2 separate regions of the Homo sapiens genome follow, and region 2 is linked to region 1. The links come from fine-mapping of genetic effects on gene expression. Tissue or cell type: esophagus muscle. Region 1 holds a variant in brackets; the other region holds the start of a gene. All regions are shown on one strand. Distances are between the middles of the regions.

What was found. PIP is the estimated chance that this variant, and not a neighbour inherited with it, causes the effect.
Region 2: it holds the start of KIFAP3, and the variant in region 1 is fine-mapped to the expression of KIFAP3 in esophagus muscle (GTEx, PIP above 0.99).

What each region holds. Positions count from the first base shown.
Region 1 is chr1:170,223,277-170,225,965 of GRCh38, forward strand. The region is part of intron 1 of LINC01681 (long intergenic non-protein coding RNA 1681); the gene reads left to right. Among named protein-coding and RNA genes, the nearest start is that of LINC01681, 50 kb to the left of the region's middle. The variant G/C (reference allele first, on the strand shown) is at 1,408.
Region 2 is chr1:170,073,129-170,075,817 of GRCh38, forward strand. It overlaps KIFAP3 (kinesin associated protein 3), which reads right to left and starts at 1,567. Exons shown (of 20, transcript NM_014970.4): 1 at 1,308-1,567. The coding sequence starts at 1,339. RefSeq lists enhancers at 1,376-1,435, 1,496-1,795.

The sequences.
Region 1 (2,689 bases):
CCATGCTCCTTTATCCCAGGGGATCTTTGCATATGCTATTAACCCTCCCATTAATACTTTCTGGTTAAATCCTTCTCATCGTTCAGGTCTCAGCTCAGGTATAACCACTTCCTGGAAGCCCTCTCTGAACTCAAGTCCCACTATTAGGCTCATCTCTTCATGTACTTTTCCATAGATCTTGTGATGGTTGTGACTATGCATTTGTGTTTGTGCTTATTTAATTATCTTATGCTCCTTCACTAGAGTGTAAATCCATGAGGGCAAGGATGGTGTTTGTTTGGCTTATTTAGCATCTATATAGTGCCTTGACATAGAGACAATCAGTAATATTTGTTGAATGAGTGAGTAAGATTGTGGATTTTTATCATTGAGAAAAAAATTTTAAAATACTTTAAAGTAAAATTTATAGCTGTAAGTTGTGATGCAAAAATATTTTTTCCCAACATATAATATTATTTGGATACTTTGTGTTTAAAGGCTTTTAGTAATTGCTGACATGTCCTAAGATCATAATTTCAGGAAAACAAAGAGATTTGATGTGACAGCTCTTGAAGTGGCAGCGCTTTAGCCAGCTGCAATGGTTTATCTTACTTGGCCTCAGCATTTTACTTTCCCTGATAGTTGATAACCAAATGCAATTTATGAACAATATATTTCTTCCTGAAGAAACTTCTTGTTTGGGAAAAAATACTAGGTATATTAGTCCATTTTCATGCTGCTGATAAAGACATACCCAAGATTGGGTAATTTATAAAGAAAAGAGGTTTAATGGACTCACAGTTCCACGTGGCTGGAGAGGCCTCACAATCATGGTGGAAGGCAAAAGTCACATCTTACATGGTGGCAGGCAAGAGAAAATGAGAGCCAAGAAAAAGGGGAAACCCCTTATAAAACCATCAGATCTTGTGAGACTTATTCACTACCACGAGAACAGTATGGGGGAAACCGTCCCCATGATTCAGTTATCTCCCATCAGGTTCCTTCCACAACACGTGGGAATTATGGGGGATATTATTCAAAATGAGACTTGGGTGGGGACACAGCCAAACCATGTCACTAAAGAAAGAAATATACAAAGAATAAGTTATATTCTGCCTGTAGTTTAGTGTAGTGAGGGTAGAAAGAGGATGGGCTTTGGATGAAATAGATCTGGGATCTTGGTCTCTAGTTAGGGTTGTAAGATATGTAACTCTATCCCTTGCGACCCTTCAGACATGCTTATTCTAAAGAAATATTTATTGTTTGAAATACATATTTAACTAGTTATCTTGTATTTTTATTTGCTAAATCTGGCAACCCTATTTCTAGTTCTCCACTTACCAGAGGTTGGATAGGAATTTTACCTTGAGAGGATTAAGCGGGATACACTATTTGAAATGCTTAGCATAGTGTCAGACACTATGTGCT[G/C]ACACTTAGTGTTCCAAAAATATTTATTCTTTTTTAGATTCCACATGTAAGTGAGCTCATGTAGTATTTGTTTTTCTGTGTCTGGCTTATTTCACTTAGCATAATGTCCTCCAGGTTCATCCATGTTGTCACAAAAAAGTCAAACTCAAAGAAATAGAGAGTAGAATGGTGGTTACCGGAGGCTGGTGGGGATGGGAGGGGTGATGGAGAAAGGGGAGATGTTGGTCAAAGGGTATAAAGTTTGAGTTAGACAGAAGGAATAAGTTTTAGTAACCTATTGTACAGCATGATGACTACAGGTTGCATATTTCAAAACTGCAAAAAGAGTAGATTTTAAATGTTCTTACCACACAAAAATGATAAGTACATGAGGTAATGGATATGCTAAATAGGTAGATTTAGTCATTCTACAATGCATGTATATATGAAAACATCACATTGCACCTCATATTTATATAGTTATTTGTCAACTAAAAATGAAATGAAATAAAAACATTTCAAATGAAAGAATAAAAGGCAGAATTAACAATATTTAAAAATTTTATGCTTATTACTAATATATGTAAAAAATGAAAGTTACTTTTGTTACAATAATGGATCCCATTATTTGTAAACATCGGAGCTACCATTGTGTGCCATATTCTATACCATGTGTTGTTCTAAGAAGCCGTTTACATGTATTATTTTATTCATTTTTTTTCAATGATCCCATAAAACAGATATGACATTATCTCCACCATGCAGATGAGACACAGAGAGTTTGGGTCACGGCCGACATCACACTGCTTACGGTGGTGCAGCCTCAGATCCCACTGTCAGACTCCGGAGTCTGCTTCTTCACCACCAAGCCATAATTTCTGCCTGTGACAAGCAAGGCCGGGTCCATTATGGATGAGCATCCTTTCATATTTGACAGGACCACTTCCCCTTAGCCCCTTTGTAACCCCGGGGCATTGGTGATGCTGTCCACCTGGTAAATCAACCATCCCTTTTGCACCCAGAGCTGATTTTATAGAAATCTAAATACACTTCACTAGGTTTACATGTTAACACTAAAAGAAAAAGAATGTTCTCTGTTTGCCTTTTAGTTGAGGCAACATTTTGGTTTTATAGGCTTGTTTTAGTAAGTAATTATTCTGGTAATGCCAAGGCCTCCTTTATTGAGTCATAAATGCATCCTGGACAACTCAAAATAACAAGCAGGCCTTTTCCTTTGGGCCTAGCAGGCACACACTGTTTAGCTAGATGTGAGTTGGCTTGCCTGCCTCTGCAGGTTTCTCTT
Region 2 (2,689 bases), 150 kb before region 1:
TGAATTTAAAGTTAAAAGGCAATTTATTTTCTTCTGTCACAAAATTTTTAACCAAGGTATTTTAAAAACCAACGTTAAGTAAAATTCAGTGAGGAAATAAACACTGATGTAGGCTTATATATTCATTTAAAAATTTTTACTGACAAAGTCTGGCTATTTGCCAGTTTCAGATATATTTACATAAAATAAAAAAGACAGTCAATATATGCCTGTCTTGCCAGGACAATAGAGTTGATTTATTTATTATACAATTGTTTGAATCCCTTCTATGAGTCTACTAACACTTGGAAGATCTTTCTGTGATGATGAGAGCTCAGCCAAGCCAGAATAAAAATATTCACTGCAAGTGTATTATGACTTGAAATAATACCACCACCTTACATTCATGTTTCATTTTTTAAAAGTATTTCATCTTTCGTCCTTGTATCTCTCAGAAGGTAACGCCTGTCCCATTTTCAGATGAGGAAACCGTGCCCAAAGGAATACATGCGACTTTTCCAGGGTATTTACTGAATCAGTACTGAATTAAAATTTTTTTCTATTGGATCACTGCTTACTCTTGGTTCAGTGGGAGGTATCTTTTTTTTTTTCCAAATCAGGAATGATCTGAGTATTTGCCAGCACCCAAATAATCCCAACAGACTACAATTTTTTTGAGTAACTGATACTATATTTAAAAGAAATTATGGCCTATTTTATTGTCATCAAACTTCTGAACAAACCTCTTAATAATTACTAAATGTCCTACAAAAATTATGTTGTATACATGGGAGTCAAATGGATGACATGGATGCGGAAAGCAGAAAGAGACTGGAAATCAACATCTCAATTCAGCCTTCCAAAAAGTAGAATCCACCACTTCTTTCCCCTTCATCATTTCAAAAGCCCATGGCAATGAACCCCAAACTGAGGCCTGAGGGCGGATGCACCAGACTTTATTCCCAGGCTCTCATGGGATTTATCTATTATGGGAAAATGGAGAGTCTGGGAAGAGGCGAAAAAAAAAACAAAAGACGCGGTTTACCTTGCCCTACCTCCCTCTCCCCCTGGAATAAGGTGATGTAGCGAAGAAACCATCTTTCAATGCTGTCAGGGCTCCGCCGAGTCAGGTCAAAGGACTTTGAAACCCCCCCAGAGCTCTCCTTTTTTCTCCACTTCACCTTTTCCCTCTCCTTTCGGTGACTTCTCTCCCTGCTTCCCATCCCGTCTGCTAAACTAGCGTTGCCCAGTGACATCTCACAGCCAACCCAAGAACATCTTCAGGGCCCTGGCAAGGAGGGTAGGACAGAGCCTTGGGGAGTCGTCACCTTTTGAGGTATCTGGCGTCCTCCCCTTGCATGGCGGCAGCGGCAGCGGCGTGGAGAGGATGGGGTATCTTGAGAGGCAGGCGCGGTTATTTCCGGGGACGGTGGCCAAAGTACCCTCACACCCAGAGGCGATGACAGTCCTGAGGCCTGCAAGGCGGGGCAGCAGCGGCGCTGTGGTTACCACGGTGAAGCCTCCAGCTCCTCCCACAGCTTCTGTGCCCCAAAACACTGGAGCGGCCCAGACCCGCCCAGAGTCGCCTAAGCCGGGCCGTCACGACGCATGCGCTTGCTCTGCACCTCTTGTATGCGCAGGCTCAGTCTGAGGCGGTGGCCTCAGAGTTTGACGCACCGGGGAGCCGAGCAGGGAAGTTTTGGTGCAGTTTTGAGCGTCCGTGTATAAGGAGTGGCTCCGTAGTCACCGCCCCCTTGAGGATGGGAATAGAAAGGGCTGTCAGGTCAGCTTGAAAGGAGAGAGGGGAATCCGATAACCTTTTAGTTAGCGAATGCTATACAGCAGTCCAGCTAATAAGGGAGGTTTCTATTTGGGGGCCTGAATGGCCCTGATTGCACTTACAAGCTCTAACTTATGGAGATAATCTGACCGTTGTACAAAATGGATATAACTTTGAAGGCGGCAAGTCTGTCACTTTGATGTCTTAAATCTAGAATACACCTCCCCCAACCAAAACAAACAAACAAACAAACAAACAACAGCAACAAAAAACAGTTCCTGAAATTCCAACTCCACCAATTATCCTGAACTCAAGGTATGTTTAGAATTGCTTCTTCTGAGGCAGGCAATTGTTAGCAGTGCAGGGCATAGGAAAGAAGGGTTCTTTTTTAACTGCATGTTCTCTGGTTTAAGATCTATTCCCATGGGTTCAGCTATTATGTCTATGCAAATGATATAGGTTCATTTATTTGGTAAATGTGAATTGAGGGCTGGCTGTGTGCCAAACACCAAACCAGGCTCTAGGGATGCAAAGAAAGCACCTCTACTCCCCCTGCTCACCTATAATCTTGTCACTTATTCACTGTCTTCTAGTCCTGTTTTCCCAGTTGCTTTGAGACGTGCACGTAGTTGCTCTGCTGCTTTTTTCAAATGTAGTACATTGATGCAATTATTGATTATCCGTTATGTGTAAAACACCATGTTAAGGCACTGCATGGTATATTAAATATAGAAATACAGTCCTTACCCAACAAAATATATTTTTATCTTCCCACCCATTCACACCAGCTACACTATTTCTGTAGATGTTATAGTCATTCTTTCATTCTGAAAGGGAAGAAAATTTGCAGCTAATTTTGACTCCTTCCTCTGTATCATGCCCTCTTACTAAAGTGTTACAAAATTCTATCTTTTCTTCCTTCAAGATATT